Linked DNA regions of Homo sapiens. The protein of the gene in region 1 interacts with the protein of each later gene in a pairwise test. Each region holds a gene or a part of one and is shown in the gene's direction. Other genes may lie near its edges.

Region 1 (10,138 bases):
ATCAGTTCCACAGTGTCATTCCAGCTGGTGGGCTCTTTATTCCCTCGAGCTTTATAATTACCAGCCTCTCAAAAATAATGCATTTGTTATTTATCTCTGTTTCCTGAAAGCCTGGGTCTGTGTTCATTTGCAAACACGAAATTGACCAGCACAGATCTGCCAGTGGCGTTGCTGGGATCCCAGAGAGATTTTCCCTCCGCACCTGCGGTCTCAAGGGCCGGCGGTGCTTCTGAGTCACTCATTTCACCAGCGATCAATGAGACACTCTTCAGGTCCTCAAGAAGCTTAAGCCTAGCCGACCAAAAATGTCTGTTTTCCACACCCCGCTTCTAAGTCCCACAGCATCTTCTTCCATTCACAAGACATCTTTCATCTCTTTTTCTGAGGCAGATGACAGGGGACTTGCTACAGACAGAATCTTAAATACCTATTTAAAGAACTTCAGGCTGGGCACAGTGGCTCATGCCTGTAATCCCAACACTTTAGGGAGACCGAGTTGGGTGGATGGCTTGAGCCTATGAGTTCAAGACCAGCCTAGGCAACATAGAGAAAGCTCATCTCTATAATAAATACAAAAATTAGCTGGGCGTGGTGGCATGCACCTGTAGTTCCAACTACTTGGGAGGCTGGGGTGGGAGGATAACCTGAGCCTGGGAGATCGAGGCTGCAGTGAGCCGTGATCACACCATGGCATTCCAGCCTGGGCAACACCATGAAACCCTGTCTCAAAAACAAAAAGATAAAAGAACTTTAAAGGTAATGTATTATCTCCAGCAACACAGAATAGCTCCCTACAACAGTAACGAAACCAGAACCAGCATCCATCCCTTCTTAGTGATTTTTTAAAAATTACCTCCCAAAAGGAGAAGACAGAGACGTAGAGGACAGTCTAAAACAGGGATTCCCTGATGCTGAGGTTAGCAGATGCTCTGGCCTGATCACTGCTCTGATCCAGGCTGCCAGAACAATCCTTTCTCTTAGAAGGGCAAAACTGCTTTTCAGCTTTATATAAAATAAAAGCATAGCCCAATTTCTTTCCATTTTGCCTGTTCTGAAGCCTGGCAGTTTTGTTGCTAAAATGGAAGATGAAGCTGAATCCAACTCTTGGTTATTTACAGAAGGAAAAAAATCTTTTCCCCAGCCCATGTTAGGGTCTCCAGCTAGGGGGCCTCTAATTACACCAGCCAAAGACAATTCAATCAGGCAAGAAAAAAACAAGTTTATTGGCATGTGCATTGCACTTACATGTGGCAGTACCTGGCAATGAATAACCCAAAGTGTGGTCAGGACTTGGGTTCATCTATCATCTTAGGCTGACATAAAGGAAAAGGCCTGGAGCTTCTGGGCAGGGGAGGCATGTAGTGGGAAGGTGTCTTGGTCTATTTGTGCTGCTGTAACAGAATGCCACAGACTGTGTAATTTATAAAGAAAAGTGGCTTATCTGGCTCATGGTTCTGAAGACTGGGAAGTCCAAGAGCATGGCATTGGCATCTGGTGAGGGCCTTTATGCTACATTGTCCCATGGAAGGAGGGTGGAAGTACAAGAGAGGGTGAAAGAGACAGAACAAGAGAGGGTCAAACTCATTTTTATAACAACCCACTCCCACAATGGCATTAATCTATCCTTGAGGGTGGAGGCCTCATGGCCTAATCACCTCTGAACAGTCCTACCTCTTATACAATGGCAATTAAATTTCAACATGAGTTTTGGAGGGTATATTCAAACCTCAGCAGAAGGTGCCCAGGAAAAGTATGGTAAACAAGGGTTGTTTAGGAAGGTTTGTTATGCAGACTTAAGTCAGTACTTTCTTCCACTGATAAGAGTTGTTACAAGATATCCTCTTCCTTGCATGGAAGAGGGAGACGTGGAAATTTCCTTTATAATAAATGTGAATTTTTTTTACAAAATGAAAATGGTTTTTAGAGCCTTTCCTGTGGTCTGCTGGTTCTTAATGGCCTTTAATTCAAAATAATCCACATGCGAAGAGGCATATTTTGGGGTGGTGTATCCCAATGCCCCTCAGATGCCTCTTTTGTGAACTGTCCAAGTGGATGCCCACCTCAGGACCTTTGCATTTGCTATTCCCCCAGATTCATTCATGCCTTTTTTTTTTTTTAGATGGAGTCTTGCCCTGTCGCCCAGACTGCAATCTCGGCTCACTGCAACCTCCACCTCCGGGTTCAAGCGATTCTCATACCTCAGACTCCCAAGTGCTGGGATTACAGGCATGCGCCACCACGCCCAGCTAACTTTTGTATTTTTGGTAGAGACGGGGTTTCATCATGTTGGCCAGGCCGGTCTTGAACTCGTGACTTCAAGTGATCCACCCACCCTGGCCTCCCAAAGTGCTGAGATTACAGGTGTGAGCCACTGCACCTGGTCCATTCTTTCATTTTTTTTTTTTAGTCTCAGCTGAGATATCACCTCCTGTAACTAACAGCTCAACCTGCTTTTCTTTACAACACTTAAAACTATCTAAAAATTATTTATTTGAAAATGATGGCCAGGTGCGGTGGCTTACGCCTGTAATCCCAGCACTTTGGGGGGCTGAGGCGGGCGGATCACCTGAGGTCAGGAGTTAAAGACCAGCCCAGAAACATGGTGAAATCCTGTCTCCACTAAAAATACAAAAATTAGCTGGGCATGGTAGTGAGTGCCTATAATCCCAGCTACATGGGAGGCTGAGGCAGGAGAATTGCTTGAACCCAGGAGGCGGAGGTTGCAGTGAGCGGAGATTGCACCACTGCACTCCAGCCTGGGTGACAGAGCAAGACTCCATCTCAAAAACATTAATAATAAATAAATAAATAAATTACCTGAAAATGGCTGAGATAATTAATACTGGGACTCATTTAGCCACTTCAGCAATATTAGCGGCCAGAGGAGGTGAGGAGACATGATGGTGAGAGGGCTCCTTCCTGCGTCAACCATGCGCATTATGAAGAGTCACATCATGAAGATTCAGTATTGGACTAAGTGCTGCAGGAGAGGGGAAGGACCATGGCAGCTCCCAGGAAGAGGAAATGACATCTGGGTAAGATAACTGTTAAAGAAAAAAAATAATCAATAGCATTTGTTAAAGCATGGTACCAGACTTTATTCACAACCATCATGATAGGTACAGGGACCACTGCAACGGGATCTTGCAGCAGGGGAGAGAGATTGGGCTCAACTCCGAAAACAGCATGGGCAAGTGGGCATTTATAGCCAAGGACTGGGGGAGGGGTCAGTGGATGGACAGTTACTAAGAGGACACTTCAGGGGTCCAGGTGATTGTGTCTAAACCACCTCATAGGATTCCTGTTGAAGGCAGGCCAGGGTGATTGGACAGCATGGGGGATGGTGGAGCATGGGGAGCCTGATCAGATGTCACCAAGGGGGATCAGACATCAGGGGCAGGGAATCCTGCTAAATTGACAAAGCAGGGATTGCTAAAACAGATGTCACAGGGAAGTGTATGATGGCCCTACAAGGCTCAGAAGCCTGACTAGAGTTTGGTCAAAGAATTTTTGTCAGGATCATGGAAAATTTAATAAAGTGTAGCTATGAAAGAAAGGACTTAAAATTTATTTAACCAGAGTAACAAAGAATTAAAAGTCAATCCAGTAAGAGAATATATAGGCCTTAAATCAGCATCCATTAGTGAAGTCTGTGGCCTCTAGTTTTTCTTACTAAAACTTACTCCACTTACAAAAGAAATATTGTGGAAAAAACAGGAAATACAAAATGTATGGAGAAAATAAGATAACCCCCCTGATAATTCTTCCATTCAGAAATAACCAGTGTTTAGGTTTGGATATACACCTGTGTTTCTAACACAGTAGTCCCTAGCCACATGTGGTTATTTAATTTAAATTTAAATTGACTAAATGAAAGTAATATTCAAATCATTACTGTCATTTCTGCATTACATCCTTATTTTTGTGTTTCATTTATCAGTATTGTGTCATCAATCACACCTTCCTAGCTAGCTATTAAAACAGTCATTCCTTTTAGCAGCACAATGGTTTATGATATTAACTTTGAGCACAGATACATTTTTCTGGGCTTGTGCAGTGGAGCAGGGCTTGGCTGGGGTGAACCTTGGCTGTTTCCCTTATTAGCTGTGTGGGCTTAGGGAAGAGTTAACTTCTCTGTGGCTCACCTTCTCCATTGTCAAGCGGGGGTAATAGCAGGCTATTTGCAGGGATCAGGAGTTAATACGTGTACACTGCAAGTAATGATCAATAAGTGTCAGCGCCTCCATTCTTTGCCAGGTGTGCACCACAGCTGGGGGATTAAACTTTACCACACCACAGCAGATAACATATTTGCATAACTTGCTTTTTGTCTTCTTAAGCTTTCCTTGAACTCAATTCCCCAGAGTGGTAGAAGTGGTCATAGGGCACTATCATTTTTATGACTTCTGAATTGCCAGATCACCCTCAGAGAGATTGCATCAGTGTTCGGAGCTTGCAGCCAAGCTCGACCCCACAGCCCTGCCATCTGTGCCCGAAGTTCGATCTTGTTGGCTCCAGAATCCCTAGGACATAGTGCAGGAGTGAATCCCGAGCTGGAGCTGGGTGGGCTGTGGGGTCATTCCAGATTGATTAACCTCCGACCTCTGAAGTCTGCAGCTGGAAGGGGCTCCAGGTAAGAAGATAACTTTGAAGCATCACACCAGGAAACCTACTGCACCTGGACTTTCATGACATTTCCTGCGGGCAATTTTTACCTCCACGAAATTCAGTAACCTTTGCAGCCCCTTCAGCCCAAGACCACCAGGAGCAAACCTGTGGTCCACAAAATCGGGTGTACTGACCCACTGCAATGAGGGAGCGCCTCCCAAGAACGAAGGGAAAGGCAGAGTTTGAAGGGGTTGAGGGAAGGCAGAGTTTAGGTGACCTTTACATGAAGCAGGGTTCCCACAGGCTGAGGCCAGCAGGACTGTGTTCCGCGGGGCCAAGTGTGGGAAGCTGTGTGCAGACGCCCCCTATCTGGAGCTGCAGCCTGGATTGGGATGACAGAGGCTAAGTCTCGGTTAGTGGCTGAGCTCCCCGGCCAGACGGGCATGTTTCCTTCTCCCTGCTGTAATCTCAAAGCGGACAGCGTCTGCCAGGTGGTTTCGGGAACAGGGTTTCTCCGAGGGCTAGGGGGCTGCGGTCCCTCCGAGGCGGGGTCGTGGTGGCATTTGGCTGTGGCTGCCTCGCGCCCTCGGGAACGGGCGTCTCCAGCTCGCTGGCAGCTGGTTTTCTCCACGTCTGTCATCGGCCTGGAGTGGCAAGCAAATAGCTGGTATTTTCAGAGCCGCCCTGCCCCGGACAGAGAAGACCGGGCCCAGCAGGCGTTGGTGGATGCCTTTCAAGCTGTAATCAGTTTCCCCGAACGTGTACCAGGTCTCGGCCACAGCCCGAGCCCAGCGCGCTCCCGCGGGGCACCTGGTGACCCGGTGCAGGGCGGGAGGGCCGGTCCCAGGAACCCGAGGGCCGGAGGGCAGGGCCCCCTTCCCGCACCGTCCCCGGGCTGGCAGGAGCGGCCACGACGGCACGCTCCGAGGCCCCGGGTCCCTTGCCCCCTCCAGTCGCTCCCACTTTCTGCCGGGCTTGCCCAACGAGGGGGCAAACACCACGCTCAGGTGGCGTGGACAGGTCGCTGCCGCCTCGGACTACACCAGAGATCTCAGCTATGAGCCTGGACGCCCGCCCCGCCCTCCCGAGGCCCCGCCCCGCCCCCCGAGGCCCCGCCCCGGCGCGGCGCGCAGGCGCGGTCCATCCCGCCCGCAGAGCCGCAGTGCCGGGCGCCAGAGCAGCGGCGCCAGAGCAGCTGCACCATCCCGGCGTTCGCGTGTGCCGCCGCTTTCCTCCTCCATCTCTTTTCCTCCGCCTCCGCCGGCGCGATGGCGAAGCCGCTGACGGACAGCGAGAAGCGGAAGCAGATCAGCGTGCGCGGCCTGGCGGGGCTAGGCGACGTGGCCGAGGTGCGGAAGAGCTTCAACCGGCACTTGCACTTCACGCTGGTCAAGGACCGCAATGTGGCCACGCCCCGCGACTACTTCTTCGCGCTGGCGCACACGGTGCGCGACCACCTCGTGGGCCGCTGGATCCGCACGCAGCAGCACTACTACGAGCGCGACCCCAAGGTGAGGCGCTGCCCCGCCCTGTGCGCCCGTGCCCGCTGAGAGGGCGCCGGTCCCGGAGCCGCGCCAGCGGGGGTCTCTGCGGGGCGGCCCGTCGGGCGTTACCTGCGCCCCTAGCCGGCCGGCGGCCAGGCACAGCCGACTGGGGAGTCGCCTGGAAGCCGCAGTCGGCGGGGCCCGGGCGTCCCCTGCGCAGGGCCGCGGCCACGGGTCCGCCCCACTGGGAGCCCGCGCCTGGCGGGGTCCGCCGTCCCCCGCAGATGATGCTGAGCCCGGGAGCCTGGCGGACGTTCCCGGTCTCTTTCTGGCCGTGCGCTTCCGCGCTGGCTGCAGAGCCGGTGCTCCCCGCCCCTGCCTCCAGCCACTCTTTGTTTTCCTGCAGCAGCCTGTGGGAGAAAATGGGACTGGAACCAGGCCTGGGCAGCCTTGTGGGTTGGAATGGGGTGAGCTCGGTAATCTGCAGGGAATTGTGAGACTTTTTTTTGTGTACGCTGCTTAGAAGAAAATCACTGAAGATGCCTGCTTCACGCAGGGAGGGGTACGAAGCTCAGAGATGGAGATGGAGCCCTCGAAGAAGGCTCTGTCTTAGAGGTTCCCACACCTCCCTTGGAGAAATTTGCTTGGGTTGAAGTTGACAGAGATCATCTTACTAATTGTTACTTTTTATATCTTGCAAAAATTTGTTTGAGTAGTGAAACAAAGTCACTGATTGTCCCCGTTACTCTTAACCATGTTTACTATGGGCCTGTGTTCTTGCTGTGTTTTTGGTATTCCTAAATATACATACACATTTTTAAAAAGTATAATGCACATACAGTTTTTTAGATTTTCTGTTTCATTCGTAAACATTTGTAACTTTTTCACTGATAAACAGCTTTGCAGGTCAATGGATAGGATGGTAGTTTTCAGTTTGATAGGTACATGGTAGTCTTGCACAGCCCCCTGTTGCCAGTTTTTTGTTGTTGTCGTTTGCTTTTAAACTCTTGACCATGGAGAATTGTCTTTCTACTACACTAACGTAGAGGGAGAACTGGTGAGGAAAAGACACACTTCCAGACCTGAAGCCACTTGGCAAAGATTTTACTTGCAGTGTACATCTAGGCAGTGAGCACTTGCTTTATGGATGGTATTTTAGAATATTTTTGTAGGGCATTAAGATATGTTTAATACGGTAATTGCTAAGAGATTGACTGCTTTTCCAAACTTATTCTGGGACATTCTTTTTTCTAAAATGGAGATGGTAAAAGGGACAGATTTGTTAGAATACCAACTGGGGCTCTTCATATTTGGTATGCAAAACATAGAAGTGGCAACGAATGGCCAAAACAGGTTATAACAAGGGCTTGGGATGACTTTGCCAGGAAAAGCAGCCAAGAAGCAGTGGCTCCCCCAGAATTCCCTGCTGTTGGGAGAGTTCTGATGCACAGCACCATTTTTTTTTTTTTTTTAATTCTGAGTCTTGCCCTGTAGCGTGAAGCTAGAGTGCAGTGGCGCGATCTCGGCTCAGTGCAACCTCCGCCTCCCGGGTTCAAGCAATTCTCCTGCCTTAGCCTCCCAAGTAGCTGGGATTACAGGCGCCTACCACCACGCCCGGCTAATTTTTTGTATCTTTAGTAGAGACGGGGTTTCACCATGTTGGCCAGGCTGGTCTCAAACTCCTGACCTCGTGATCCGCCCGCCTCGGCCTCCCAAAGTGCAGGAGTTACAGGCGTGAGCCAACGCACCCGACCCGCAACATCATTTTTATTGTCTAAGTGGCGGATGGCAAGGACATAGCTCTGCCTTCACATTCAAGGGCATTTCCTTGGAGCTGGACCAGGACTCAGCTCTACACCTTAGGGTGCCCATTGGAGTATTTATGTATAATCACATCCTGGAGAGGCCAGCGATGGGCTCAGGGATTACGGAAATGACCTTCATGAACAAGATAGTCCCTGCAACAAAACAGGTTTTTTGATCCTCCGTGAGATCTCTTTTGATTGTCTACGTGTGGTGGCTCTGGGTGGAAACCTTTCTCTTAAACCGCACAGTCTGTAAGTCGTAAAGTTGTAAACTTTTAGATCTCACAGTGTGTAAATAAGCTGTGTGCCTATTCTGAATAGGAAGGACATGGAAAATTGGGATTTAACTGCTTCTTTCGCTAATTCATGATGAAAATAAGCTTGCAATCCTTTCTTTGGAAAAGTTACATGCTTGCTGGTGATGGACCAGCAACCAGTCCCACCAGAGCCAATGAGAGGAGGTGTGCTCCCAAGAAAATAACTGCTGTGCCTCCCCCTCAGCCAGAAATGACCTCAGACATTCACCGGCACACTGCAGACTGTGGTAATGTGACACTCTAGAGCTCCTAAATAGAACGCTTTTATTGTTATTTTTGTCTTTTTTTAAATTATGCAAGTCCTGAAGGAAAAATTATTACTGGAGGAAAAATTAGAAAATATAGATAAGCCAGAAGGAAAAAAATTAACTGTAATCCTGTAACCCACTTCTATCGCCCACTTTGTGCTGTAAATATTTTGTGTTCTACATTGTTTTTTCCGTATTGGCAGAAACTTGTTTTTAATACATAAAATAACATTATACTGAACCTATTGTTTCATAACTCTTAGCACTTTATTTGTGGTACATAGCGAAAGAGTAGAAGTTGGGGTGTTCAGAGGAAGATTTGTCAAGCTTTGCCATGCTTGGCAAATCAGCACGTCAAAACATCTGGCTAACATGGAGAGCTTTGTGCTTGGCAAGAGGTGGCGGTTGGTCATGAAGACATTTAATGGATTCTCTGAAGTGGTGGCAAGGTGGCAAGGAGAGTCCAACCTGAAGCTGCAGAGCCTGGGATTGCGCTGCATGGAGAAGAAAGGGTGTGCGTGATTCCACGCTCCTTTTCATCCTGGCCTTTCCATTCGGTCTGTGCAACTGTGGGCTTGGGCGGATTTCTTTGCCATTATTGGCCTCAGTTTTCTCATCTTTAAAATGAGGGGAATCAAGCTGGTGATGTTTCCGAAGTCTGTTGCCATTCTGAAATGTTAGAGTTAAAATGTTTCTATTTCATATTGAATTGACATTCCATCTCTATCCAGAGAGAATTTGAGGATGCTTATGCTAGATACAGCACAAAAGGTTCACATTAGAAGGCCTCAGAGTGAGGGTTGGGGTGGGACAGTGAGGGTCAGGACACAAAACACAGACCAGGATCCTGGCAGTGAAAGCAGCCCATGCCCAGTTATGAGAGTCACGGGATCCCTTCTATAACATCCTGAAAGGACAGTTGCACGGTTTATTCTGTGGGCCTTTGTGAAGCTGTGTTGTCGATGTGCTGAGCCACTGACCTGCAGCACCCCTGCAGTGGATGTAACAATCAGTTTTTGAGACTCTTCCCATAAGCTCCTGGCATGACTACAACACAGATTAAGGAAAAGCAGCTCTACCTTGGGGCCCACACTGCTGTCCTAAATATTCCTAATGAGATAAACACAATGAAATACGATTAATCTTTTGGTTTGGCTGGACCCAGGAGTTAAAGAAGATGATCTAGAGAAGTGTTTTGCAGACCCTTCTGCTCTGTGATCCCCACTTCTGGGATTTGTTTTAATTAGTCAGTTGTGGTACCAGCCTCCGGAATCCTAACACTCCCAATTTTTCTGATGTATTTCCACTTTTATGTGTGAAGTTGAGCTTGCATCTCCTGGGCAGGCTTCCCTGACAGCAGATCGCTCAAAGTCATTTTCTCTGACCAGTAGCTGATGGTGGGTGCTGTTTTGTGTTGCTGACAGCTAGCCACTTGGAAGGTAGGCCTCAGCTGTCATTTTAGCAGATGGAGAAGCCTACAGTGTGTGCCTTCATTTTCTGCAGAAGACAGCCTGGCCTCTGCCCTTGCAGGCTGTGGTGGCTGGTTTTATGTGTCAACTTGGCTGTTGTGCCTAGATAGTAACGTGGATGTCCCTCTGGGGGGGTCGGGGGGTGGTGTTTCCCACACTGACTGAGCATCTTACAATTCAGTTCCGTTCTGATGCTGTCTACCTAGA
Region 2 (10,818 bases), on another chromosome or scaffold:
AAAAATAACTATGCAATAGATTACCTTGTATTTAGATACATTGGTAAGATAGGTAGAGAGACAGATAAATGGAGAGATTTACATATTAAGATGTACTAATTTAAGGTTATGACTATGTTAATTATTTATCAATTAATGCATAAATTTAATGTAATTCCAAACAAAATTCCAGCTAGATTGTTTAAAATAATTTGACAAACTTATTCTCAAATTAATATGAAGGAGAAAATAGGAACAAAAGTATCCAAGAATTTTAGCTGTGTGCAGTGGCTCATGCCTATAAACCCGTAACTTTGGGAGGCCAAGGTGGGAGGATTGCTTCAGCTCAGGAGTTTAAGACCAGTCTGGGAAATACAGGGCAGGGCAACACCATCTCTAAAAAAAGATAAAAATAAAAAAATAAAAGAGAGAGAGAGAATAGTTGAATAATTGTGGGAATATTTTAAACAGACATGGAAAGTAAAGTCAGCTTTCATTGACTCAAATTTATCAGTCTTTTATATATGGCTTCTTTTCATTCTTTGCAAGGAATTCATTACTCTAAAATTACATGCATGGTGAAAGTTTTATATGTAAAATATATTGAAAATAAAACATACATATGTATCATATATGATCATATAGTAAAAGTAGATAACTCACAAATGAATAACTATAAGAAACTCAATGAACATGGGAAATCTGTTTATTCTTATTAATAATTGTGAAAATGAAATTAAAACTCCAATGGCCTATCATTTTTTTCTTGCTCATTTTAAATTGGAAAAAGTTGTTAATATCTGATTTTGGGGCAAGCGTATGAAACAGGTAATCTCATGTGGTCTTAGAAGAAATATATATTCCTACAGTCTTTGGAGGGCAATTTGATAGTTACTACCAAAAGCAAATTTACCCATGAATTGAGTAATTATCTTTACCTCCAATGTTTTTTCTCCATATCTATATTGATAACTACACAGAGATATAATAAGGATATTAATTGTAACACAGTTTGTTTTAGCACAAAAGAATAAAACCTCAAATGTGCATTAGTAAAGGAGATGTTAAGTAAATTATGGTATATCCATTCTACAAAACAAATGCAGGCATTAAAGAAAAGGATGCTATAAATTATCTCATGCTAATATCTTCAAGATATACTTTGAAACCTTAAATCCAAATGCTGGTACAATAAATATATTAAGAGATTAGTTATGTAAAATAATAGAAATCAATATATGCATGTTAGAGTCAAGAAAGATAGGCATGTGCCAGCAAAATGAAGATGAGTTCATGGACTACTTTAAGGTTTTTCTTTTTAAATCTTGTATTCTTCAAATGTTTGACAATAATATGTATCATTTAGCGCTGATACAAGAAGGAAGAAATAGGGAAAAAATATCTATTTTGCTTTTGAATAGAGACTCAATATTGAAAGATGATAGTTCTTCCTAAAATGTCTCTATGTGCAATGCAAACGAAATGCCTTAACTACAAAGACAAGTGCCAAAATTTGTCAAAAATAATTCTACATGTATATGAAAAAAAATCATGTTTAATATGTATGTATGCAGACACATGAAGAGAAATACAGATGTTGGGATTGGGCCACCATATATTAAAACTATTAAAATTGTATAGTATTGTTAGTCTTTATATAGGCAGGTCAATGGAAAAAATTCTGAAAAGTAAATATCTATCAATCTTTTAAAGTGGCATAGTCTTTTCCAGTGTTTGCTTTTATAAACATTTACCTATCATGATTTTTAGTATTTACATTATAATACTAAATCATCTTAAATTCACTTTAGGAAATGACATGATATTATATTCTACCTTCCTTTTCCCTGGAATAGTTAACCATCCTAGGACCATTTGCTATACAACATATCCTTTGCTCATTGATGTGGAATGACAATTTGGAGCTATGATTAAAACTAAAGTGTGTTTCTGGTATTTATTTATTTATTTAGAGACAGGGTCTCACTCTGTCACCCAGGTTGGAATGCAGTGACGCGATCTTGGCTCACTGCAACCTCAGCCTACTGGGTTTAAACTATTCTCATGCCTCAGCCCCCCGAGTAGCTGGGATTACAGGAGCATGCCACCACGCATGGCTCATTTTTTTGTATTTTTAGTAGAGACGGGGTTTCACCATGTTGGCCAGGCGGTCTTGAACTCCTGACCTCAAGTGATCTGCCTGCCTCAGCCTCCCAAAGTGCTGGGATTTACAGGCGTGAGCCACTGCACCCGGCCTGGTTTTGACTCTTTTGCATTGCCTTATCTGTCTCTTTCTCTGCTCAGTGCTACCCTAAGCAATTCTAATACTTTGGACATTTTTTCATTGTTTTCATTTTTAAGCCATAGCTTATGAACTGTTAAAAATGATTTATTAATCCAGTTAAACTTTAAAAACATTTTGTTGCTTTTGTCCGCATGGAGAAAACTAATAACACTTTTTTTTGTTGTTCGTTTTAAAGTAAGTAAGTTGCTTTATTGGTTACCAGGAATGACTGTATATTGCTGGTGAGTTGTTTGGTTTGCTTTCTTTTTTTTCTTTTTTTTAAGTTTTACTTTAAGTTCTGGGATACATGTGCAGAAGGTTCAGGTTGTTACGTAGGTACACATGTGCCATGGTGGTTTGCTGCACCTATCAACCTGTCATCTAGGTTTTAAGCCCCTCATGCATTAAGTATTTGTCCTAATGCTCTCCCTCCCCTTGCCTTCCAACCCTCAACAGGCCCTGTTGTGTAATGTTTCCCTCCCTGTGTCCATGGAATCACCAAATTTTGTTTGAAACTTAAAATCAATTTTGGAAGGAGCACCATATTTATAATATTGAGACTTTATGGACAAAGTATATAGCTAATTTATTTAAATGCTTTTTATGTCTTTTATCAAAATAAAGTATCTTAAACTATGGATCTCAGACATTTCTTGTTAAATTTATTATTGTGTAGTTTTCATTTTTAGTTGCAATTGTGAAAAAAATCATTGTTCTCTATATTGCCTTAATGGTTATTGCTGATGCTTAGGAAAAATGTTAATTTTTGCATGTTTACTAAAGTAACCAAAAGTTGATACCAACTTCCCAACTTCTATTATTAGTTATGATGATTATCCAGTTGATTATTTGGGGTTTTCAGGAGACAATATTATCAATTAAAAATACCATGCATTGCAGAAATGGTGGATATGAGCGTATTGTTCTGACTTTAACAGCTTTAATGTTTCATATTAAGCATGATGTTGATGTGGCTTTCCAGATAGATAATCAGATTTGCCTGTACACAAGACACAGAAAGACTGTGAGGTTGTCAATGAGGAAGTTTTTTTTTCACTGTTCCTTACCACTGCCTTCTTCAACAGATGTTCTTATTTTATTTCCTTACACGTGTAATATGTTTGTAACATATTACTCTGTCCTACTAAGAGGGTCAAAATGTCTTATCCCTTAAATCTTTAAGTTTCACTGAGATTTTCCAATAAACCATCAAACTTCAAGTCACCGATCTATCTTTTTTCTTTCATTTCACGTGTGCTAGTATCTGCTGCATGGAGATTTTATTTTAGATGCATATTAATCTTCTGCTGCTGCCTTGCAATTTGATCTTAAGCAGAGTATTAAAGGAGACAGGGAACATTTCAGAAGATGCACAATTCTTGTATATATTGAATAGCACCCATTACAACTACTGATGAGACGTTCTCCTGAAATTAATTCATAATTGATATTCTCTAATGAGTCCTCAGAAATCAGATTCCTGTAAAATACTAAGCATTTTGACATCATGAACATCTAATGACACAGAGTCAACATGATGGTAGTCTTATTTCTAAGATGTCTTTGAAATAAACACTCGCATTTAGCTCGCTAGATTTTAGCTTGAGATAGTTTATCAACAAACCGATACAAAGACAAGATAAGAAGAGATTATTCTGAAGTTTCAAGATTCTCTCTGTCTCTTCTTCTATCACTGATTCCATTCTTTTATTGCTTTCACTTTGTCTCAATCTTCTTGAGAGTTCATTCTTCCTCCAAAGAAAACTTAAATTTCATATTCTAAACAACTTTAAATCAACACTCTGAAAAGTAAATAAACATGACTTTTTATATTGCTGACAACTTTAAGTTAATGCATTGATATAATATACACATTCTCAAATTTTTAAGAAAATGTATTTTTTGAGATTTTGAATAAATAAAATATGGCCTAGAAGCTATACTTGGAACAACCAATGACTTGTGATCTTTTTAAGACATTTCTTAGTTCTATTTTGAGATCTTGTTTTTCAGTGATTCTGTCATATCAGTTTAGTACAAACCTTGAAACTCAGAAAAACTTTTACTAAAATAACTGCCTGGTCATGAGTAAGATTAAGTTGCAATAGAACAAACAGAGAGATTGGCTAAAAGAAAAGCAAAACTTACTTAAACTCAGCATAACATTTTAGATGGTATATTTTTACATTATTATAAAATTTAAAATTTATGTTAAAATATACATTGTCACACTCATGACTGAAAATAGAGGGACTGAGGAAGCATGCAGAATGGGAGAAAAGTAGGGAAACATCTTTAGTCTAATAAAGAAAAGCTGCCTGAGTAATCGGGTCTTTCTTAGGCAGAACTGTGCTTTGGGCAATGTTTGTTTTTATCCATTCCCGTGGCTTCCTTCTGCCCTCAGCACCTGGTATCCTTATCTGACCTCTTGGCTTTCCAAAGTAGAGAAAGGTCTCTATTTTGACAGATCAGAGCTCTATATTTTCATATTTTTCCTATCTCTTACCATTAAAATTTGGCCATCCATATTTATTCTTAGGGTTCTGGTATATGATTAGTTGAAAACAGATGGTGCCTGAGTCAGGACATAGCTCCGTGAAAAAAGGAGATTTAGCACAGGCTATGGTAAGGAGAATGGTAAGGAAATCTTACAGAATTGCAACTGAGTTAGGCCTAATGGCTCGTTTCTGCTTCCCTCTGCTATTTTCTCTGTTCTCTGCTTCCTTTCTCAGCCTCTGTTAACCCCTCAGGAAGGCATCCAATTGTCTTCCTTTGTCTTTATCCTTGCTTCCTTCATTGTTAATTGGCTTCATCACTGTTTAATTTTTCAGAAAAACACCTTGATTAGCCCCACTCATTTTTTTTTTCCTCATGATAGCTCACTAGTTGCCAGCCTGACATACACATTCCCTCCTTGAGTGCCTGCCCCTTCTCCATAAAATGTGGCTACAGCTGACAGGAACCCAGGGGATCTGGGACTCTTGGCAGGGCAAGATTTCCTTTGAAGAGGCTATGGGCAGGGAGGCAATGCTTGTATCTGAAACAGATGTTTTGGGACATTCGGGAGTCTTGAAGCTCTTCAGACGCCGGGGCTCCCCTGCTGAGTGACTGGTGGGTTTGGCAGCACATTTTGCTTCCTTTAGCTAATCCAGTGGGTTTCAGAGACGCAGAGGGAATAAGAGGAAACGGATAATGCTTTCCTCAGCATCAGTACTACACTTGTAAGTTTCCCTTAAGAGTGTTCCCCCCTTCTGAAATGGTAATGACATTCTGACGAGAGATTCCAAGACGTCTTAACTTCCTAGCGTGGTGTCGTTAAACACTGACCGACACACACATCCCTTAATGTGTTTTATTGATTATGTAACTTATCTAAAAAGATAGGTCAGCTCAGGCGAGGCCTCCCTCACACACTTTTCTTTCAATATTGGTGGCTGATAGATCTGCTTGCACGTGTATTGATACGAATGGCCTTGGAAAGAAAGAAATCCCGTCCTCTGTTTAAAAAACTCTGCAAGAATTAACAAGGATAAGTGTAAGGAGGTCAGTTGTCTGTCCCCAGGTGCAGAACCTTAATCTGAAAAGCCCCAAGCAGCTGGTTACCTAGGATTACACAGACCTGGTAGCTTTTGCCCTCTGCCTCTCTTTCTAGTACACACGCGCACGCGCACGCACAGGCACACTTTCCCTGATACTTTGGACATTTATTTTCCATTGTCAAACTTTACTTTCTTTTGGACATTTGGTTTTGCACTTGAATTGTTGGCATGCATAGTCAGCTTGTCCCCTTTTCTCCATCTGTAACGTTATTCAAACAGGCGTTCAGACAATGTCTTCATGAGTTTAAGATGTTTGTTTCTTTTGGACCAACACACACTCGCTAGTTCAGTCTTGCTCTCTCTCCTCTCTCCCCTGTCTTTCATGCAAACATACACCGAGTCCTTCTCCACGTGTACCAATGAATGTCTCCTCCGAGGGCTCTTGAGTTCAATGTCACGCTGGGCAGAAGTAGAGCAAGAGTAACGAGCATGTGTGGAGAGCGGACGGGGAGAGACCCTTTCTGGCCAACAGAGGGCAGCCGAGGGGAGGCGCTGGGGCGCGAGGGCTGAGCCGAGCTGAGCCTCGCCTAGCTCCGGCAGCCTCAGCTTCAGCACCAGCCGCACCGGAGCCCGGACCGCAGCCACTAAGGGCAGCGGCGGCGGCGGGAGCCAGGCGCGCAGCTAGCAGCGGCGCGGTCGGGAAGCAGCAGCCGCCGCCGCCGCCGCCGCCGCCGCGACGGGCAGCTGGGCTCGCCGGCAGCCGGCTCGGGCCCCTACCCTCTCGGCTACGTGTCTCCGGCGCCGGGCGGCCGGCGAGTCTGGAGCCCGCGCCGTCGCCGGCCGCGTCCTCCGGGCATGGAAGGAGGCGGCAAGCCCAACTCTTCGTCTAACAGCCGGGACGATGGCAACAGCGTCTTCCCCGCCAAGGCGTCCGCGACGGGCGCGGGGCCGGCCGCGGCCGAGAAGCGCCTGGGCACCCCGCCGGGGGGCGGCGGGGCCGGCGCGAAGGAGCACGGCAACTCCGTGTGCTTCAAGGTGGACGGCGGTGGCGGCGGTGGCGGCGGCGGCGGCGGCGGCGAGGAGCCGGCGGGGGGCTTCGAAGACGCCGAGGGGCCCCGGCGGCAGTACGGCTTCATGCAGAGGCAGTTCACCTCCATGCTGCAGCCCGGGGTCAACAAATTCTCCCTCCGCATGTTTGGGAGCCAGAAGGCGGTGGAAAAGGAGCAGGAAAGGGTTAAAACTGCAGGCTTCTGGATTATCCACCCTTACAGTGATTTCAGGTGAGGGCTCCCGGTCGCCGCCCCACCCTCCCTTCAGGCGCGCCCTGAAACGCGCTTCCCCGCCCTTGGGTGGGGGGCGTCCCGGGGACTAGGAGGGCGGGCGGGGGGTGGCGCTGCCGGCGGCGTCGGCTCGGGCTAAGCAGGCTCCACTCGGCGCCTCCGGGTAGTTTCCACCCAGGAGGGGCTCGGAGGATGTGCTCCTGTTGCCCGGGAATCCCGGACGGGCTCTCCTCCTTGGCCTCCTGAACTTCGGGGACAGATCAGGGAAGGATGGAGGCCACGGTCACCCTCCTGGGAGGAGGCGAAGTTGTACAAGGGAAACTTTTACTTCAGAGACGAGAGCGTGAGGAAGCGGGAAGCCACCCTTCCTCGCGCGGCTCCCTCAAGTGTGGTCTCAACCAGGAGGGAAAAGGAGGCTTCTGGGGCTCAGAAGAAGACTGGGTAACCGGAGACAGCGATTCACAAGCCCGAGCAGTTCCTGCCGCGCTCGCCCCTGGGGAGTGTGTTTAGTCTGTTTTTCTTTATAGGCGCTGGTTATCCTCGCTGTGTTTACTCAGAAACAGCGGCCGGCAGGCAAAAGAAGGGCAATTTGCACTTGGATAGTCCCTGACGTGAGGTCTCACCAAAGCCAGGCGCTTCCAGGCAGGGCAGGAGCGTGGCAGGAAGCCTCTAGTTCCTGAAACAGAGAGAGGGGGCGTTGACAGAGCCCCTTTCTGAAATAGAGCGGCACCCTTTCTTGACCTTGACTGCAAGTCTATTTCAAAAATCTTTTTCACGTCCTCCAGCTCGGGAAGAAGGACAGGAAAGCTGTCAGCAGGAAAACTCCGCTTTGGAGAATTAAAATTAAGACGTTTTCTGATCTTACTTGTCGCTCAAGTATTCGTTCGGTGATAAGCATATTTAGAGATTGTCAAATGAAGGTCGTGTAGTAGATCCTCTTATTAGCGTGTGCACGATTATCTTAGCTCCTGAACAAGGCTGGACTTCCCATTTTAAAATCCAGAACTAGTAACTCCTAATAACTCAGGGTGATATTTATTTATTTGGCCGAACTCGTTCGAAAAGAAAAGAAGAATCAACTAAAGGAGTATGTGCATATACTAAGTATTCTTTATAGGATAAATATAGCAATGTAAAGCAGCCTTGGAGTTAGTTTAGAAACTAAGGGAAATTGTCACCAACTACATGCCTTAACGGGAGCTGTCCACAGTTCTGAATGACATTAGCTGTGAAAAATCCACAGTCCCGCCACACAAAGGCTCAGAGTGACGGTCTTTGCCTTCTTTGAGATATTTATCGTCTCAGAAATCAGTAGCCTCCGTGATCTATGCAAAGAGTGAATGGATTTTAGAAAGTGTATAATTTTAAGGTACTTATTTGTAAAAACACACAGCAAAGTCCAAAGGAGAACTTATAAAACCTAATGACGTTTATAGTCTAGAGAACATTAAGAGTTTGATTGAAAGAACGTTCATTAAAAATTTTAAAAAAAAGAAAATGTTCATATTAAAAAGATGTAATAAATAATCAAACCTGTTTCCTCCAGTAGGAAGATAGGGAAGCAAACTTATAAATGACCCTGTTCTAAGATGTATAAGGTTGTCATGTTCTTTAGAATTTTAAAGGTGGGAATCAAGTATAGAATATTATCTTTTCCTCAGTCCCCAATGGAAATATATTTCACCTCATTTTAAAATTTTTAAATGAAAATAACTTACATGAAAAAAGTCTCCAGTCTTAATAGCAAAAATAAATGTGGTATTTCCAGAAATGTACCAGGTTCAATATTAACATGCAAAAATGCTGAACTTTTAACATTTAATTTCACTCAATAAAATGATTACATATGATGCTTTTATTTTTTCAGCAATGTGAAAAGGACTATCCCTTATCAAAATGATACCACACATCAAGTAATTAAACTTTTTCCCACTTGCTAAATAAAAACATAGGGCCACTTTTCAGGAATTAGAATAGCATGCGAAAGTCTTTTGAATGAATGGAATTACAGGATTCTCCTTATTTTCCCAAGGAAATCTTCTGAGACAAAATATCTCTTTAATAAAAACATTGTTACTGAACAAAGGAACAAATTGAAATCAGGTGATGATTTAATTTTATTATCCATTTCAAAGAAATGGGAAATGATTAAAAACTGAGCTAATACTCTAAATTCCAGTGTGGAGTAGTTTGGAATATTTGACTTTTCCCTTGTATAAATGGAAAAAAGAAAATGGCAGGCACAAATTAAGCAATTATCATTATTTAGATCTTTTTAAACTGAAAGATATCTGAAAAAATAGATTTTAAAACATAATTACAATATACACTGGTGTTCTAAAACAAACTGCAAAAATAATCATGTACTTGTTTACATTCAGAATATATTTACATCTTATTGTTTCATTTTTTTGTATGATCTCAAAACCAATATAAGATTTTCTAAAATCTATAACGTCAAGATAATGTAATGAAAGAACAAAAATAGGAAAGACAAAATTCTAGCGGTAGTTTTTTTCTACAGGGAAAGGAATGTGTGAGTAATTTTCAACAGATACTAGAAATTTTTGCGGTCATGATCTAGCCTTTACTTTAGGCCCTTTCCTGAAGGATTATTTCAGGGAGGTGCTTTACTACAATTCCTAAAATGTCAAACTTAAGTTCATTAATCATTTAACAACTGAGTGAATGACACTTAAGAGTAATTTCTATGAAGAGTGGGGAGTTATTACAAATGAAGATATCCAGAGGATTCTTTTCCTTGACACTTTTAATAAACCTTTACATGGCCAGAGAAGTTTACTATGTTCTTACTCCAGGGCATGTCGTGACTTTAACACTGTTTCTAGTTTCCCTGCTCACGATAATTTTTAAGACTGATAGCTTTCTACTTTACTTACCTCAAGGGACAAGGCTGTGCTCCCACTGAGACTTTCAGAGAGCTAGCTAGTGCCTCTTTTCCCCACCAGAGCCCAAGAGTGCTATTGCTGTGTCTGGCAGGTAGTTTTCTCTACCCCTGGCGTAAGTAGGGCAGAGTTGCTGTATTTACCTTTTTCCTCAGCAGAGGATGACAATAGAAACCTTCAGAGAGTAAAAAGCAGTCCAATAGTATAGGTACTGTTTGAAATAACTGGGTGGAAGCTACAGAATTTAGTAAACACAACAAGCTCATGTTTTTGTTTATGCTGTGGTATATAAGCACCCAAACTAGGGAAAATAGGGATAGTTACTTAAAAACAAATGTAGCTCGATTTTTCTGTAGTGACAGTATGGTCTTAGTCTTATTGAATTTCATGTGAACAACACATAGACACATTTAATTTGGAGGTTAAATATGATTTTTAAAAATTCATGGTGATTTTATATTAATTAGCTAGAATTTTACTAAGGTTTAAAAGTGATGCTTGGCAAGCATTGTGCTTCCATAGCCAATTGATAGTTATGATATAATCATTTAAATAGGTTGAAAGAATATTTAGAATACTTTTGTGGATGATTTTTATTATGCAAGCAATTTATCTTGGAAGAATTTATCACCAGACTATTTGCCATTTTAGGGATTCTGTCATTATTTTGTTCCATCATGCTTACACAAAGGGACTTTTAAAAAGAATGCTCCTTTCCATATGTATTGCCAGCCAACATCTTGCTCCTCATAACGGAGGCAGTTTTGTATCTTGACTTCTTATTTTTTTCAATTTCTTTTCATCATTAGTATGAGTGTGTGAAAAGCTTA
Region 3 (7,000 bases), on another chromosome or scaffold:
AGGTCTTCAGCTAAGTCTCTTCAGCCTGCGGGATTAGAACTTGGGACATTGGCTCTAGTGGGCTGTGTGTAGATTCTTTGATTGATCCTTTTGCTTTGGCTGTTTCCACAATATCTTGAGAGTTTCCAAGGCTTTTCCTAACATGCAGAAAAAGCACGTAGGAGGCTGGTTTGCAGGCTTCTTGGAAGTGCAAAGAGAACTTGCAGATAACCTGTGCTGACTCAGTTGAGGAGGAAGCTGTGAAGAGGAACCCTTCCTCCCTCAGTTCACACCCAGATTTTTCAGGATGGGTAGAGTGGGGGGCACTGGGATGCCAGATATAGCCTCTTGTTTGGTTTTCGTACTTGTTTAAAAACAAGGCTGGGCACGGTGGCTCATGCCTATAATCCCAGCACTGTGGGAGGCTGAGGGGAGCAGATCATGAGGTCAGGAGTTCGAGACCAGCCTGACATGGTGAAACCCCGTCTCTACTAAAAATACAAAAATTAGCTGGGGGTGGTGGTGCACGCCTGTAATCCCAGGGGTGGTGGCACGAGTAGTCCCAGCTACTTGGGAGGCTGAGGCAGGAGAATCGCTTGAACCCGGATGGCAGAGGTTGCAGTGAGCTGAGATTGCGCCACGGCACTCCAGCCTGGGCAACAGAGCAAGACTCCATCTCGAAAAAAAAAAAATTAAAAATAAGACAAAACAAAAACACTACCTGTGTTACAGTTAGAGCTGAGGGTATAATTCCAGCACAGTTTTGCAAAGGACAAGAGTAACTAAAATTTAGATATTTTGTAAGTATAGGATTTTTTTTTTACATTGAACCTGTTAGTCAATCCGTGGAACCTCTGCAAACCTACCTTGCCTAATTCAGTCAGAACTTTCCTTTCCAGAACAGTTACGTGGCTATAAGAACAGATCATTGAAAGCAAATTTGCCCTTAAAATTTTCACTAGATTGATTTTCTTAAAGGGGAAACAGTGAGACAGATATCCTTTAAAATGAATGTTTAAGCACCTGCATTCTGGCCATAAGTTATTGTTTTATTTGTTTCCGAATATGTGTATTTCTCTGACTGGCCATCTGTAAGGGTTTCTTGCATCCCAGGGAAGTTCTGTACTTTTGGAAAAATGGGGTCAAATCTGATATGTGTTCGTCCGTTCACCTTTTTTCTTTACATGTTTGGTTAATCACAATCAGAAGGTGAAAATGAGAGGTTATTTATAGAACTGAACCAGTGGTCCCAGCTCTTTACAGAAGACACTTGGCATGTTGCCTGTCACTTCTCAGGGGTGGCCATGGCTGCTTGAGAGTGAGCTCCCCAACACGTCATCACACACCTACACCTGTGCCATAAGGAGGGGTAAGATAGGTTGAGGGGAGATAGGTTTGGGGACTCATCCAGATCCTGTGTTCTGTGATTCTCAGACTTGAGATTTTAATCCTAGTTTCGGCACTCATTTCCTTAATTTAGTCCATTGAAACTGTCAAATCAAAATATAAATTTGCCATGGTAATTAGAATGATAAAAAGTGCTCAGATTTTGGGAGGCTGAAGCGGGAGGATTGCTTGAGCTCAGGAGTTTGAGACCAACCTGGGCAACATGGTGAAACCCTGCCTCTATAAAAATTGAAAAATTAGCTGGGCATGGAGGTGCACACCTGTAGTTCCAGCTACTTTGGAGGCTGAGGCGGGAGGATTGCTTGGGCCCAGGAGTTTGAGGTTCCAGTGAGCTATGATTGCACCACTGCACTCCAGCCTGGGCAACACAGCAAGATCCTGTCTTATAAAAAAAAAGTGCTCAGCTTTAGTGAGGCAGTAGTGATGGGATGGGTTTTTGGCATATCATAAAATATTTGAGGATTTTTTTTAGGTTCATTTTGTTCTGATGATAGAAGCAATATTATTTTAGAAGATATAATACAAACCAGGATACCAGAAATTCCTGAAATCTTGTCACCTAGGTATTCTGATTTTAAATATATATCTCTAGTCTTTTTTCTCTGCATTTACATAATACAGTTGATCCTTGGACAACATGGAGTCTAGGGGAGCCTAGCCCCCACACAGTCAAAAATCCACATATAACTTTTGACTCCCCAAAACCTTCACTTCTAACAGCTTACTGTTGACCAGAGTCTTACCAATAACATCAACAGTCGATTAACACATATTTTGTATTTTATTTGTAACATATACCGTATTCTTATAGTAAAGTAAACTAAAGGAAAGAAAATGTTAAGAAAATCATAGGAAAGAGAAAATATATTTACTATTCATTAAGTGGATGCGGGTCATCATAAAGGTCTTCATTCTCATCCTCTTCACGTTGAGTAGGCTGAGGAGGAGGAAGAGGAGGAGAAGGGGTTGGTCTTGCTGTCTCAGGGCGGCAGAGGCAGAAGAGAATCTGAGCATACGTGGACCTACAAAGTTCAAACTCATGTCGTTGAAGTGACAACAGCATTTTTCCCCACAAGTCTAGTTTCTATGTACAATTTTATCTTCTCTCTCTCTATATATATATACATATGTAGACATAAATATAAATATATAATATTTTTTTTTCATTTCATTTGAATCTTTTTTAAAATAATGGCTTTAATGATGATATAAAATTACATCACATGGGCTGGCCATGATGGCTCCCCGCCTGCAATCCCAGCACTTTGGGAGGCCGAGGCGGGTGGATCACCTGAGGTCAGGAGTTTGAGACCAGCTTGGCCAACATGGTGAAACCCTGTCTCTACTAAAAATACAAAAATTAGCTGGGCGTGGTGGCAGACTCCTGTAATCCCAGCTACTCGAAAGGCTAAGGCAGGAGAATCACTTGAACCTGGGAGGTGGAGGTTGCAGTGAACCGAGATTGTGCCATTGCACTCCAGCCTGGGTGACACGAGTGAAACTCTGTCTCAAAAAAGGAAAAAATAACAACAGTAAAAATAAAAGTACATCACATGGATGTGGTACATTTAATTTAACCAGGTACCTGTTAATGGTCACCTAGGTTATTTTGTCATCTTTTTCCCCCTATAATGTGGCATTGAACATTTTAGTACCTTAATCTCTGTGTGTTTTTAATTCTTTACCTAGGATAAATGTCTCTATGTGATATTAGGATAAAAAATGATTAAAAAATTAGAAAGTTTGTACCAATTTTAACTAATGAAAATGTTTGCATTGGCTGGGCACAGTGGCTCATACCTATAAATCCCAGCATTTTGGGAGGCTGAGGTGGGAGGATTGCTTGAGTCCAGGAATTCAAGACTGGTCTGAGCAACATAGTGAGACCTCGTCTCTACAAAAAAATATTTTTTAAAAATTAGCCGGACATGGTGGCTCATGCCTGTGGTCCTAGCTACTCGGGAGGCTGAGGTGGGAGGACCGCTTGAGCCCAGGAGGTGGAGGCTGCCATAAGCCATGTTCATACCACTTCACTCCAGCCTAGGTGACAGAGTAAGACCCAGTCTCAAACAAAAAAAAAAAAAAAAGAAAAACTTGTATTATCTTTTCAATTTTTTTCCTAATTCAATAAATAAAAAACAGACATTGTTTTTCATCTAAATTTCTTAAATTAATAATAAGGTTGAACATTTTGCATATTTATAGGCCACTTTAAAATTTTTTTTCATGAATTTTCTATTCATGTTCTTTGCTTATTTTTCTATGTGGAATATTTGACTTTATTATTGCTTTGTAAGAACACTTTACATATTAAGGTATTAGCTCTGCTGCTATGCTTATTGTAAAATATTTTCACAGTTTGTCTGTAGTCTTTTTTTGTTTTACTTATCGTTTTTACTTAAAGAAAATATAGTTTTTGTTAACTCAGATTTATCCTCTTTCAGCATGATTCTCTTTGCTTTTTATTCTTATAGAGCCAATTTTTTACTTGTGGAAAAAACAAATATTCACCTATGTTAAAGGCTTAAGAATACGAAATTGCTGGTTGTTTTTATTTTATTTATTTTTATTTTTTTTGAGACAGAGTCTTGCTCTGTGGCCCAGGCTGGAGTGTGTGATCTCTGCACACTGCAACCTCCGCCTCCCAGGTTCAAGCAATTCTGCTGTCTCAGCCTACAGAGCAGCTGGGACTACAGGTGCATGCCACCATGCCCAGCTAATTTTTGTAATTTTAGTAGAGATGGGGTTTCACCATATTGGTCAGGCTGGTCTCAAACTCCTGACCTCAGATGAACCACCTGCCCAGCCTCCCAAAGTGTTGGGATTACAGGCGTGAGCCACCGCCCAGGCCTGCTGGTTCTTTTTAAAAGAATGGTATCCTGACATTTAAAAACCTACCATAAACTTAATGAAAGCAGGTTTGTGTCTATCTTCACTATTGAATCCCAGTATCTTGCTTGATGCCTGCCATATAGGAAACACCCAATCCCTATTTGTGGGATGAATCCATTTCTTTTTATCAGATTATAGCAAATATAAAGCCACAATGAGATGTCACGTCACACCCGTTAGGATGGCTATTTTCAAGAAGACCAAAGAAAATAAGTATTGGCAAAGACGTGGAGAAAAGGGAACCCTTGTCTCCTGCTGGTGGGAATGTAAATTAGTACAGCCATTATGGAAAATAGTAGGGAGGCTCCTCAAAAAACCACAACTAGAACTACTATATGACCCGGCAATCCCACTGCAGGACATATATCCAAAGGAATTGAAGTCAGTGTATCGGAGAGTTATCTGTACTCTTATGTTCATTGCAGCGTTATTCACTAAGCCAAGATACGGAATCAACCTAAGTGCCCATCATTGGATGAGTGAATAAAGAAAACATGGTATATAAACACAGTGGAATACCATTCTACCTGAAGAAAGAAGGAAATCCTGTCATTTGTGCCAACGGGGATGAACCTGGAGGATGTTAAGTGAATAAGTCAGGCACAGAGTGACAAATATAGCATGATCTCACTTATATGTGGAATCTGAAAAAGTCAAACTCATAGAAACAGAGAGTACAGGGGTGGCTACCAGAAAGTGAGGGTAGAGGGACTGGAGAGGTATCCTTTGGCCAAAGGATACAAAATTTCAGGTAGACGGGAGGAATAAATTCAAGAGATCTGATGTACAATATGGTGCCTATACTTGGTAATGATATGTTATATATTTGAAAATTGCTGAGAGTGGATTTTAAGTGTTCTCACTGCAAAAAAAGTGTGATATAATGCATGTTAAATAGCTCGATTTAGCCATTCCACAATGTATACATATATGGAAACCTGTTGTACACCATAAGAATATACAATTTTTACTTCTCAATTAATAAAGAGAGGCAGAGAGGCTCACACCTGTAATCCTAGCACCTTGGGAGGTCAAGGCAGGAGGATGGATTGAGCCAGGAGTGTGAGACCAGCCTGGGCAACATAGCGAGTCCTGTCTCTACAAAAATTTTTTAAAATTAGCCAAGCATGGTGACTTGCGCCTGTGGTCCCACTTTCTTGGGAGGCTGAGGTGGGAGGATCATTTGAGCCTGGGAGGTCGAGGCTGCAGTGAGCTGTGCTCACGCCACTGCGCTCCAGCCTGGGCACAGAGCAACACCCTATCTCTAAAAATACGTAAATAAATAGTGTCCCTCAGGACAGCTATCTGTGGAAGACACCCTTTTAGTCAAATAGATTTGGGAAATTTTAAAACAGTATATATGCCCTTTTGATTATCCTCTGTGGCACATTTGCCAACGGAAGGCCCCAAGAAATGCTGACCAAAAAACCTGTGCATTTAGTTTTAAAACTAGTGGGTTTCATACTCTTTTGTTTGTTTTAACCTTGAAGCACCCCCCACCCCCCACCGCATCTCGTCCCCCCACAACATAATCTTCTCTCAAACGCATGTTGTGCTGGACCACACCAGAGTTAATCCTGACCTGTAGCCAGGTGGGCATAGATAAAAGGAAATATTGTTTGCCAGTCCCTGCTGGAATGATGCCTTTACACATCTGTCTGATCTGATTGCTCCACTGTTTTCTTTCTTCTCTTCCCTTTCCACGGTTCTAGCCTGTTCATCTAGCCCCATGATGGCTGTGGACATCGAGTACAGATACAACTGCATGGCTCCTTCCTTGCGCCAAGAGAGGTTTGCCTTTAAGATCTCACCAAAGCCCAGCAAACCACTGAGGCCTTGTATTCAGCTGAGCAGCAAGAATGAAGCCAGTGGAATGGTGGCCCCGGCTGTCCAGGAGAAGAAGGTGAAAAAGCGGGTGTCCTTCGCAGACAACCAGGGGCTGGCCCTGACAATGGTCAAAGTGTTCTCGGAATTCGATGACCCGCTAGATATGCCATTCAACATCACCGAGCTCCTAGACAACATTGTGAGCTTGACGACAGCAGAGAGCGAGAGCTTTGTTCTGGATTTTTCCCAGCCCTCTGCAGATTACTTAGACTTTAGAAATCGACTTCAGGCCGACCACGTCTGCCTTGAGAACTGTGTGCTCAAGGACAAGGCCATTGCAGGCACTGTGAAGGTTCAGAACCTCGCATTTGAGAAGACCGTGAAAATAAGGATGACGTTCGACACCTGGAAGAGCTACACAGACTTTCCTTGTCAGTACGTGAAGGACACTTATGCCGGTTCAGACAGGGACACGTTCTCCTTCGACATCAGCTTGCCCGAGAAGATTCAGTCTTATGAAAGAATGGAGTTTGCTGTGTACTACGAGTGCAATGGACAGACGTACTGGGACAGCAACAGAGGCAAGAACTATAGGATCATCCGGGCTGAGTTAAAATCTACCCAGGGAATGACCAAGCCCCACAGTGGACCGGATTTGGGAATATCCTTTGACCAGTTCGGAAGCCCTCGGTGTTCCTATGGTCTGTTTCCAGAGTGGCCAAGTTACTTAGGATATGAAAAGCTAGGGCCCTACTACTAGTGACTGCAGGTGACAGGGCGTGGCGGAGCTGCCACAGACAAGCCTAGCTCTGCTCACTGTGCAGTGGAGATGGAAGGCCAGGGAGGAGCAACGTGGAACTTCCATGAGGCCCCGTTTGGGAAAATAAAAGGATCC

The links.
Region 2: the proteins of PYGB (region 1) and HCN1 interact in binary tests that used the Homo sapiens proteins (3 or more experiments, as listed by UniProt).
Region 3: the proteins of PYGB (region 1) and PPP1R3B interact in binary tests that used the Homo sapiens proteins (3 or more experiments, as listed by UniProt).

The regions. Positions count from the first base shown.
Region 1 is NC_000020.11:25,242,303-25,252,440, forward strand, and holds the start of PYGB (glycogen phosphorylase, brain form), read left to right. Parts: upstream 1-5,782; 5' UTR 5,783-5,876; coding exon 5,877-6,119; intron 6,120-10,138. UniProt on the Homo sapiens protein: Glycogen phosphorylase that regulates glycogen mobilization. Phosphorylase is an important allosteric enzyme in carbohydrate metabolism. Enzymes from different sources differ in their regulatory mechanisms and in their natural substrates.
Region 2 is NC_000005.10:45,691,933-45,702,750, reverse strand, and holds the start of HCN1 (potassium/sodium hyperpolarization-activated cyclic nucleotide-gated channel 1), read left to right. Parts: upstream 1-6,370; 5' UTR 6,371-6,657; coding exon 6,658-7,082; intron 7,083-10,818. UniProt on the Homo sapiens protein: Hyperpolarization-activated ion channel that are permeable to sodium and potassium ions. Displays lower selectivity for K(+) over Na(+) ions.
Region 3 is NC_000008.11:9,140,659-9,147,658, reverse strand, and holds part of PPP1R3B (protein phosphatase 1 regulatory subunit 3B), read left to right. Parts: intron 1-2,148; exon of another isoform or gene 2,149-2,408; intron 2,409-5,860; exon of another isoform or gene 5,861-5,990; 5' UTR 5,991-6,007; coding exon 6,008-6,865; 3' UTR 6,866-7,000. UniProt on the Homo sapiens protein: Acts as a glycogen-targeting subunit for phosphatase PP1. Facilitates interaction of the PP1 with enzymes of the glycogen metabolism and regulates its activity.